Linked DNA regions of Homo sapiens. The protein of the gene in region 1 interacts with the protein of each later gene in a pairwise test. Each region holds a gene or a part of one and is shown in the gene's direction. Other genes may lie near its edges. The genes, in order: MID1, CRY2 and OTUB2.

What was found.
Region 2: the proteins of MID1 (region 1) and CRY2 interact in binary tests that used the Homo sapiens proteins (3 or more experiments, as listed by UniProt).
Region 3: the proteins of MID1 (region 1) and OTUB2 interact in binary tests that used the Homo sapiens proteins (3 or more experiments, as listed by UniProt).

What each region holds. Positions count from the first base shown.
Region 1 is NC_000023.11:10,618,787-10,622,608, reverse strand, and holds the start of MID1 (E3 ubiquitin-protein ligase Midline-1), read left to right. Parts: upstream 1-2,023; 5' UTR 2,024-2,319; exon of another isoform or gene 2,320-2,462; intron 2,463-2,768; exon of another isoform or gene 2,769-2,908; intron 2,909-3,822. UniProt on the Homo sapiens protein: Has E3 ubiquitin ligase activity towards IGBP1, promoting its monoubiquitination, which results in deprotection of the catalytic subunit of protein phosphatase PP2A, and its subsequent degradation by polyubiquitination.
Region 2 is NC_000011.10:45,864,290-45,868,111, forward strand, and holds part of CRY2 (cryptochrome-2), read left to right. Parts: intron 1-3,322; coding exon 3,323-3,463; intron 3,464-3,822. UniProt on the Homo sapiens protein: Transcriptional repressor which forms a core component of the circadian clock.
Region 3 is NC_000014.9:94,024,093-94,027,692, forward strand, and holds the start of OTUB2 (ubiquitin thioesterase OTUB2), read left to right. Parts: upstream 1-2,247; 5' UTR 2,248-2,445; coding exon 2,446-2,448; intron 2,449-3,600. UniProt on the Homo sapiens protein: Hydrolase that can remove conjugated ubiquitin from proteins in vitro and may therefore play an important regulatory role at the level of protein turnover by preventing degradation.

The sequences.
Region 1 (3,822 bases):
CTGTGTCCTCACATGGCAGAAGGGGCAAATAGGCTCTCTGAAACCTCTTTTATAAGGGTATTTTGCTTTAAGGGCATAGAAGATGGAAGGGATTAATTTTTCTTGGGGCATTTGGGGAAATCACGAATGAGTGGTGACATTTGAGATTGTTGGATAGTTGGTGAGTGAGTCAAAGGAGAATAAAAATGGAAGGAACATTAAAAGGGCTCAGTCCTTGAGAGAGGAAATCCCAGCTCATATTTACCTTTGAGGTGATGAAAGCAGAAGGCAGACGCAGTTGTAGCTTCTACTGAAGGTGATAAACAGATGTGCCATGGGATTAAGCTCCAGTATTTAATGGCAGGAGCCCTGGGTAGCTTCCTGTGTCCTGTGGCTGGGGCATACCTAGGGCTGGGATAGACGCAATATTTCTCAAAGTAAATCAGAGTCCTTTGTCAGTGGGATAAAATGCTGATTCTCAGGCTCCTCAGCAAACCTACTGAATCAGATTATTTTGGTGCAGGGGCCTGGAGATTTGCATTTTTAACAATCTCCCCAGAGGTTTCCTTGCACCCTCAAGTTTAAGAACCACCCTTTCAAAGCGTGATTTCATCACCCAGGAGACATTTGGTAATGTCTGGAGACATTATTGGTCATCACGATTGTGGGGGTGCTACTGGCATCTAGTGTGCAGAATCCAGGGATGCTGCTACACATCTTACAGTGCACAGGACAGCCCTCACGACAAAGAATTATCCTGCCCAAAATGTCAATAGTGCTGAGATTGAGAAATCCTGAACTCCATCATATGAAGGGCTCTCAAGGAAAAGTACAAGAAGTGGACTGAAGTCAGTTTGTGTCACTAGGTGGCTCCTTAGGCTACTCAGGCAGGGGGCTAGCGTTATGGGCTTCCAGGCCCAGTTATCGGACCACCAAATTTTCACAGAACTGGGCAGAGCTCACATGTATTGAACCCATGCAGCTGACACTCCTGAAGCCACCAATGCATTATTTGCTAAGTAATTTTTTTTCCTCTGATACCAACACATTTAAAATCTTTATTGAATTATCGTCACAAAATTGCGGTCATTTCTTGGGGGAAAATATGCCATTAGTTCTACACAAAGTACTCTTTGCTCAACTTGCACTTTCTTGAAATCCAGAAGGTAGATTTACATTAAAATCATGTTGGCTAAGAGTTGAAAAAAGTTATTGCTTATATGGAGTTAAGAAAGCAAACTTTGGAAATTTTTTTTGGTCTGAGTTTGTTTCTAAGAAGCCAACTACTTCTCCAGCTCTCCTGCAATCCTGCCAAGGTGATGTCCAGCTTGTCCCTGTTAATAAGTTCAACAGATCAACCCTGTAGGGAAGCCAAACCATAGAGAAAGGTGGATGCACTAAATTTTTTTTTTTCTGAACAAAATGTCAGTGTGTATTGTTCTATGACAATAGTGTTATTTGAAATTATGCCTCGGGCCTTCAGTAGGTAAAGATTCTTGTTCATTTGCTGCATTTCAAAAAAATTGTGTGCACGTTCCCATTAAGATTTATTTTTCTTAAATTGAATATACAGTTAATCTATATGCAGATGAGGTAGGTAACACCCTCCTTTCTGGATTGTTCGTTTTAGTTAAGGTGTTACTCATAACAATTTGGTTTCCTTTCCAGTCTTTTGCAAAAGTAGGGCTTCAGTGCAAGATATCCTTTTAAAAATACCCTTGGGTCCTGAGTGTTGAACTTTTCTGGCTGAAATAATTTTGCACCTTCCAAATGTTTTAATGCTGTTAGGGAGCTCTTAAAATGCAAGGATTTAAGGCCCTTAGCTAGTTAAGCTTTTAGCAGAACTAGAGCTGTTAGATAAGAATAGAACTCATCCTTTACTTTTGGAGCTTTGGACATTGTTTCCAGCTGCTTCCAGTCATTTGAATCCCGAAAGCGCCCCTAATCCTCGCGGAGGCAGCCTTTCTGGCTCCCAGGACCCACCCCCTTGCTTCTGATTGGCGAAGCTCCTCCGCGGCCCAAGCCAGCCACCTACAACGTCTCTGAGAACTGATTTGAAATAAGAGCCAGGCGGTCCTCGCTTCCCTGCGACCGACTTTTCATAGGCTGGGGGAGAAAAGGTTGAGAAACTTGACATTGTCTCGAGCAGAGTGCGTGTAGCAACAGATCAAAGAAAAAGAGGACGAAAACGTGCTCTTTGCTGCCCGTAGATTTCGCCGGGTTGCTTTTGTCTTGCGGGCTCCTGTCGGGTTCGGTGTTTCCGCTCTGAAGACTGCGACGCGGGCTCCGATGCAGCTCGCTCCCTGCCGGATGGGTCATGGGATTCTAAACATGAGGCAGGTAAGCTCAGGCGGTTGCGCTGGCGGCGGAGGGGGCGGGCGCCGCCCGGGACCCCTGCGACGTGTTACTGCGGAGAGCTTGCTGGGTTAGCAGGCGCCTGGCCGTAGTCGATGCGTTTGGCGGAAAGACGGGGCTGCATTTTCCTAAGACAACCAAAGAAGCACATTTTACCTGAGCCACCCCGGTCTGGTCCTCGCCACCCGCCCCCACTTTTGCCTCTAATTGTGGTTGATGTCAGGCAGTCGTTGTAAAGGGCTTACAAGCAGTTTGTAGAATATATGTAAATCAATTCCAGTTTGCGGCCGCTGGAATGTATCGTGCAGGATGTATCTCGAGCTTTTAGTGCCTCTACCCTATGCTTTGGGCTAGAATAAAGACAGCTGAATGTCCTGAAAAAGAATTTCACGGGGCCTCTTATCTCATTTTGGTTTCGCATTCTGAGCACTTACTGTGTTTCTGGCGGAGAAGGCGGAACCAGCTTGAAATGAGCACAGACAGTCCTTCCAGAAAAATGCAAATTTGTTTTTCTGTTCTAGCAGTTTGGAAACTGTATTGCTTCTGGACGTGAGAAGGCAGCCCTGAAAGTAGTGAGCGGAGAAAGGGCTGGGGGATTACTTAAATGAGTCTTTGAAAAGAATTCTAAACCAACAGCTTCTTCTGTGGCTCTGGGGCATGATGATAAAATTCCTTATCAGTCCAGGAAGAGGTTTATAGCTTTGCTGTTAAGCAAGAAAAGGAAAGAAAAAGTGGATGTAGGAAGCCAAGGAGAGGGTGTGATTTACAACTCAATCAAAGTTATGGAAGAATTTTATGTCAATATTTAAATATCAAGAACAATACTCATATAAGGAGAAAACAAGGCTGGAAAAACATGCCAATAGGCTTGGAAGGGCAGGGATTTCAAGAGGAATGCTATTGCTTTTACCAGCTCTGAATAAATCTGGATGGGAAAGTTAGCATCTGTATCGCAACCGGAAAAGCTCTTCACTTTTTCTTCTAAGTGGGTTGGGTGCTCGCCACCCTGCACACTTTGGGGGAAGTGAGCTTTCCATTTAAGAGCGCAGGGGAGGGGTTTCGAACTTTCTGTCCCTTTCCCACAGCCTTGGGAGATGAAGCAGAGCCCCCTTCGAATGGTCAGCGCAAACCCTCCGCCTTCTTGCCCCCTCGCTTGTTCGCTCAGCAAGCAGGCTTGGCAAGTTTCAGTGAGTGCAGAAAAACACTTGCGGAGGAGCAAGTGCCGTCTGCTTGCAATGAATTGCCCTTGCCTTGGTAGGGACTGTGGGGAGGACGTCTTTAAGTTCTGCAAACTCACAGTCCAACCTCATACTTTTAATGTCTACTAAAGTGGGATGAGGAAAAGGAAGGAGAAGGGTAATTGGAAAGGATTGAAAAGGAAAAAGAGGAACGCAAAACATTTTTGACAAAGGTCCTTAGCTGGAACAAAGAAGTTATTTGATCCTGTGCAGAGCCACCTGTCCTCTCCTCGGTGGTGTCTGAGCTCAA
Region 2 (3,822 bases), on another chromosome or scaffold:
AAAATGTGCAGATTAAAAGAAAATTAAATAACATATTAAAGTTTTTTTTAAGGCCAGGCACAGTGACTCACACCTGTAATCTTAGCACTTTGGGAGGCCAAGGCAGGAGGATCTCTTGAACCTAGGAGTTCAAAACCAGCCTGGGCAACATGACAAGCCCTCATCTCTAAATAAAAACAAATTAGCCGGGTGTGGCAGCATGTGCCTGTAGTGCCAACTACTTGGGAGGCTGAGGTGGGAGAATCACTTAAGCCCAGGAAGTCATGCCACTGCACTCCTGCCTGGGTGACAGAGAGTGGGGTCTCAGAAATAAAAGAAAAAGAATCCCAGCACTTTGGGAGGCCGAGGCAGGTGGAGCACTTGAAGTCAGGAGTTCGAGACCAGCCTGGCCAACATAGTGAAACCTCATCTCTACTAAAAATACAAAAACTAGTTAGGCATGGTGGCGAGTGCCTGTAATCCCAGCTACTTGGGAGGTTGAGGCACGAGAATCGCTTGAACCTGGGAGGCGGAGGTTGCAGTGAGACGAGATCATGCCACTGCACTCCAGCCTGGTTGACAGAATGAGACTCTGTCTCAAAAAAAAAAGAAAACTGAGTAGCTGGGATTACAGGCTCCCACAATCATGCCTGGCTAATTGTTGTCCTTTTAGTAGAGACAGGGTTTCACCCTGTTGGCCTGACTGGTCTCAAACTCCTGACCGCAAGTGATCCTCCTGCCTCAGCCTCCCAAAGTGCTGGAATTACAGGCATGAGCCACCACACCCGGGCAGAAATAAAGTTTTTTAAATGGCCAAGACTAAATTGTAATACCTAGGAATGCACATTTGGGTAAAAAAAAAAAAGCTACTTAAACACAAAGAATAACTGTGAAAAGATAAAGTCCTTCCTTTCAAACGTTTTGCCAAAATAGAAAAATGTAAACATTTCAGAAATGCAGAACGTGTTTATTATAAAAGCTGAGGTAGGGGTTGCATATACTGGGGGGCAGGAGGGAACTATTCCTGGGATGAGCACATAGACTCTTGGGGTGGCTGTCAAAGCTCTGTTTCCCAAACCTTGGTGGCTATTGCGTGGATGTTTGCCTTAGAATAATTCATTAAGTCACACATGTGTGTGATTTTCTGTATCCAAGTTTCATTTAAAATAAAAATATTTTAAAAGCTGGGGGCTAGCAAGGGTGTGTACACGCAAAAATACCTAGTATCTGTTAGAAGTGCTTAACCTGATACCACAGGGGTTACCTGCAGAGGAGGAAGCCTTGAGGTTGCGACTTGAAGGAAGAGTCTCAGTTAACCAGGTGAAGGTGAGGGAAAGGAAGACAGTGGTCCAGAGGCAGCTGCTTGTGCAGAGGCAAAGGCCAGTGAGAGCAGATGCGTAAAGAAGAGGGGCAGCAGGAGGCGGAGGGTACAGTGAGCCGAGATCACACCACTGCACTCCACCCTGACCCTGTCTCAAAAAAAAGGGGCAAGAGACAGAGCTGGAAAGGCCTGGGTGCTGGGGAGCCACAGAAGCTTTCATGAAGATTTGGGCTCTGTCCTCAGAGCAACAGGAAGCCCACTGTGTACATTATCCCGAGCAACAGGCATTACATTACTCTGGTCCCAGCGTGGAGAATGAGTTAGCGGGGGATGGGAGTGGACGCAGGGAGGCCAGTCAGGAGGCTGCCACAGTTGTCCAGTCTAGATATGACCTTAGCCTGAACCAGGTTGGTGGCAGCAGGGAATGGAAAGAAAAGGACAGATTTGGGAAATATTTAGGCAGTAGAATTGACAGGACTTGGTGAGGGGACAAAGGTGATGGCTAGGATTGTGCCTTGGGCAGCTAGGTAGCTAGCAGTGTATTATCTGAGGTAGGGAGGCCAATGGAAGGGTGGGTTAAAAGAAAAGGGCACATCTCCCTTGAGCTGCCTGAGAGGCAGCCAAGTAGAGGTTTCTAGCAGGCAGCTGGGTGGAGCAATCTGGGCTAGAGCTATGGATGTGGTGGTTGTCTGCAAAGGGGTGGAACTGGGAGCCATGGGCCTGGATGAGCTTGCTGAGGCACACAGTTGAGTAGAGAACCTAGAGCTGAGCCCTGGGTACCCACATTTAAGGGAGAGGCAGAGGAGGTGGAGCTGATGAAAGACCAAGAGCGCCAGGCAGCTGGGAGATACCAGGAGATGTGGAGTCACAGAGGCCAAGGAATCAAGAGGATAAGACAGCACAGTTGGCAGGTATAGCGCTGCTGAGAGATCCCAAAATACAAGGTCAGAAAGTGCCTGCAGGACTCAGTGGCACAGAAGTCACAGGAGACTCTTGTGGGAACCAGCCTTGTGGTCACCTGAGGTTTGGAGTTAGAGACCAGCCTGGCCAACATGGCGAAACCCCATGTCTACTAAAAATACAAAAATTAGCCAGGTGTGGTGGCAGGTGCCTATAATCCCAGCTACTCAGGAGGCTGAAGAGAGTCAAGGTTGTGAAACAGTATCATGGAGAGGAGGAGAGGATGTTGGGAGTTAAGAAAGTGGAAATAGGCCGGGCACAGTGGCTCACACCTATAATCCCAGCACTTTGGGAGGCCAAGGTGGGCGATCAGGAGAATCCCTTGAACCCGGGAGGTGGAGGTTGCGGTGAGCCGAGATCACGCCACTGCACTCCAGCCTGGGTGACAAGAGCAAAACTCTGTCTCAAAAAAGAAAAAAAAATAAATAAAAAAAGTCGTGAGAGACTGCATGGAACAGCAAGTCAGGAAAGTAAAGTCCTATGCCAGCAACCAGTGATGATAAAAACATGACCAGTAATGTTATATGACACATGGCCCCAGAAATGAATGATTCCATTGGTCCCCAGGAATGGATTGGAAGTTTCCTCCTTCCCCAGCTGCTGTTGAACAATAATGCGAAGTCCCTGGTGTCTGTGATACAACCTCAGGGCCGCTAGTGACTAGAGAAGGGACTGAGATATTCTTTTCTGTAACATAGAAGCCTTGTTTCCTGCTGTATAATTAGAGAGTTCATTCAGTGCTTTCAGAATTCTTTCATATCTCATTTTAATCCACAGAAGATTGGAAATTTTGTTCTTATTTAATAGATACGTAGCTGAGGGAAGTAACAACGTGTTCACAGTCACCCCACAAATTAAAGAGCAAGTCAGAGAATGACATAGACTCGTTGTTTGGTCTGATGGTGGTTCCGTCTCAAAATCGGCTGGACAAGCACAGTGTTCCATGGCTCCATGGCTGGCTGTTCTGTGACCGTAGGCAGATTCCTTAACCACCCAATGCCTCCATTTTTTCCTCTGTTACATCCAAGCCTTTCCTTTTGCCACCTTCTCTTTCTGCTGTAGGCCTGGGTTGCCAACTATGAGAGACCCCGAATGAACGCCAACTCCCTCCTGGCCAGCCCCACAGGCCTCAGCCCCTACCTGCGCTTTGGTTGTCTCTCCTGCCGCCTCTTCTACTACCGCCTGTGGGACCTGTATAAAAAGGTAAGGGGGACATACCTGCCCACATTGCACCTAAGGCCTGCAGCCAGGCCTTTTGGGCTTGTCAGTCACCCTAAAAAAGGCACTGGTGGGTGGGGGTTGGGCTATGGCCCCTGGAAGGGCCTAAGTGTGTGCAGATAGTCCGGAGGAGGAGAGAAGACTCAATATCCAAGAGGGCAGAGCCAAGCACAGAGTGAACTGCCCACCAGAATGAAGCCCAGACCATCATGTAGAGCAGAAGGACAGGCAGAAAAGCAGGCCTCAGGTGTGACCCTAGAGGTGGCATATCCTCTGGCAGCTGGTGGACAGGGGCGAGGTCCCCAGGGTGAGAGGCATGGAGAGGGTGAGGCTGGAGCCAGTCT
Region 3 (3,600 bases), on another chromosome or scaffold:
GATGACGTCAACCCCGGAGAGCTCTCTGGGTCTGACCAGGCTGAGAAGGGCCAGACCGTGAGTGGCATGGGCAGCAGAACCCAGCCCTCAAATCTTGGGCATCTAGTACCCAGGTACACAGGTCCTTTGCTGGAAGACAGGACACCCAAAGCCTCCTGCTTCTCTGGACTTGTGAAGCCCCAGCTGCCATTCCCCGATCCCTCCACCCAGACACCTGGACAACAGGGAGAAGGGGTGCAGGAAGGTTGGAGCAAATTCATTCCAGACAGAACACACGGATCCCCTGCCATGGGCGGCCCCTAACGACGCTGTCTGCATTTTCGATGCAGACCCAGCTTGAAAACCCACTGAACCCTTCTGCAACTTTTTTCCTTCTAACCAGGCTTTAGAGAGCTTACGAGGAATCTTGATTAGTTAGACTAAGGAAATTACATTTTCCCTGCGAATTGAGCTAAATTTGAGGAAATATTCTGTTACGCATGCACTGAGATTCTTGTAAGATTGTGTGTGTGTGTGTGTGTTTAAAGCCTTCATTACTACAAATATTAAAACAAAACAAAACAAAACATTTTTAACCACCCAGATTGTCCAACCCTCTCACTGAGTGAGGAACCAGAAGACCAGAGAGGGCCTGGGCATTGCCTGGGGTCACACAGCAGTGAGTGGCAGAGCCCAAGGGCCCAGAATTCCTCATGGACTCCAGCCCAGTGCTCCTTCCACACTCCCATGCTGGCTTGGTTTGGAACTGCTGGGGCCTGAAGAAGGGCAGAGAGTGAGCCCAGGACTCGGGGCTTAGTGCAGCCAAACTTGAGGGCTCATCAAAGCCTTGGCTGAAAAGACTCTTCACCCATACCCCTCACTCAGACACCATGGAACCTGGCTCAGTCATTCCTCCACAGAGGGAAGCTAACACGCCTTGGAATGAGCACTGGTTGGGGAGTCAGGAGTCCAGGGATCCAGCCCAGCCAGGCCACTTCTTAGCTCAGCAGCACTGGGCTGCTCCTGTCACCTCTCTGGCTTCCTTGGCGGTTAAAAAAAAAAAAAGAGCGAGAAACCCCCCGAAAACAAATGGGGGTCAGGGGCGGAGGCAGGTAACACAGCCCCTGTAGTCACATGCAGAGTGAATTCGAAACCAGCTCTGGAGTCACACTGCCTGGGACTGAATCCCACTTCAGTGCTATGTGACTAAGGCAAGGAACGTAAACTCTCTGTACATGTTTCCTCATCTGTGAAACAGGGATAATAATAACAGGACCTACCCCCTTAAACCAGTTGTGAGGAAATTAAGTAAGATAATTCTGTATATGTGGAGAGTTCAGGATAGCGCCTGATACATAGTAGGTGTTCTGCATAACTGTGTAAATAACTGTAAAAAATTACCTGCTATTGTTACTGCTCCTTGAGCCTCCATTGACCTCACACTCCCTGCCCAGGACATGATACATGCTTGGAAGACTCAGATGTCTGTATGCCCAGAGCCTAGCCCAGTACCTGGGACTTACGTAGTAAGAGTGGGGCGCGGGGGGCGGGGGCGGGGGGCAGCAGCAGGAAGGGGAATTGCTCAATACACGCTCCTGGAAATATTAATTTTTTGAAGTGGATGCATGCAATGCACTGAGCCCCCCTCCCCTACAAACTCTCCCTCCCACACCCAAGCAGCTCCTCCAGGACTCAAGGGCTGGTGAATGAATCTTTGAATGATAAATATTCCTATTTTGATGTCCATTAATAATGAGCTTGTAGGCAAGATGAGTCATCTAGACCTGGTTCACGGATATCCCTACAATTCCAGAGCCACAGAGTCAACGATCCTGGACATTCATTCATTCAACAAACATTAACTGGGTGCGTGGCAACCTACTGATTCATGAGTTGGAAGAGGATAAAATATTATATAGAAGCCATACTTAATGTTATTGGACACGTGTTCCCTAAGCGCCTATCCTCTGATCTTGTGCAAACTATACTTATGTGACCTTGTTTATGAATTAATGACGGCCAGCTAATCCTTCAGAAGACTCCAATTTTAGGTTTGCGCAAAAGCCCTTCAGCCTTTACAAACGAGGACCTGTCTTTCTGGGTTGAGCTAACTCCTCTGCTAGTTAAAAGCTTTCCTGTGTCTTTAAAAGGGGGAGGCATCCTATCAAATGGACCCTAACGCATAGGCTGAAGGCACGTGAAGTCCCACCCACTTTCTATGACGTCCCGCGTCCCGGCTTCTGATTGCCCGCCTGAGACGTCAATCGCAGGGCGTGTGTCTTGCTGGGACACAGTGGAGGTCTAACCTTTGGTTTGCGGAGCGGTCGGGTGTATTCTCCGCCGCCCCCACGCCCTCGAGGTCCCCGCCACCGAACCAGCGGCGGAGCCCGCCCGCGCCTCCCGCGGCATTCCCGCACCGGATCGCTCCTCGCTGGGGCGGGACCTGGCCTGGCGGCTCTGGTCACTATGGTCAGTGATCGTGGGGGATCGCGAAGGGGGAGCGGGCAGGGGGCGCGGTGGGCGGGGTCGCTGCCGGAGCGGGTGCACCCGCGGGACGGGGGTCGGACGCGAGGCTCAGCCCCCAGCTCGCCCCCGCCGCTTTCCGACCCCCTGAAATACGGAGTCCGGACGGATACTGAGGGCCAAGTCGCGCCCCCCTGTACCCCGTGGATGTGCAGCTGAGGAGGTCCAGCTCGGCCCCGAGCCCCCGCCCCCAGCGTGTCCGCCCCAGGTGGCCCGGGGCGCCGCCTCGACGGCGCTGGGTGGGCGCCCTCGACGGAAGCAGGGACAGGGAGGCTGCAGCACTACGGGTCGCCTCCTCTTTGTTAAGTAGCCCCCCAGTCAGCAGTCCACGGCCCCACCCACCCGACGGCTCGGCCGTCAAAGACCTCCTGGCCCCTGCCCCAACCCCAAGGGAGGATCTAGGGGTTGCACGGGGCACCAGGTCGTCTGCTCCGTGGGCGACTAGACCGTCTCCATCTTTGGAGTCAGGACCCACCTAGAGAGGATGCCTCAAGTTGTGAGGCGCATGAGTTAGGGGTCGGGGAAAAGAAAATACTCAGGAATCCCTGATGGAGAGCCTTGTCTGCGCAGAACGAGGCCCAGAGACCCTCTGAGCCAGGCTAACCCTGGGCTTGGGCAGGTGGGGAAACTGAGGCCAGACAGGGCAGGGCTGGTACTGATTGTGGTGGACCTGGGGCTTGAACCCAGGCTCTGGACTCTCAGTTCAGTGCTCTTTGTGTTACATCGGCTCACCTTCCAGGTTGCCGTGGGGTCAGGCATCCTGCAGGGGACTGGGTGGCATGGCTGCCTAAGACCCTTCAACCCTGAGCAGGGGGAGCCTGTGGAGTGAGGGCTGGGTGGCTTGAGTCGGGGCCACACAGCCCCAGGTTCAAGTCTCACTTCCACCTGTTGGAAAGCGAAGAGGCTTTGGTTGGTCCGCTCTCCCCCTCAGCACCGTTTTGCACATCTGTGTCATGGGAACCATGTGATATGATTAGCTGGAGCTTTTCCTGTGACAACAGAGTCCTGGAAATGGGTGTGCACAGATGCCTGGTTCTTCAAGCTTAGCCTCCTCTCTCCTATGACTGGGCAGGAAAATGGGTCACCACGGCAGCATGC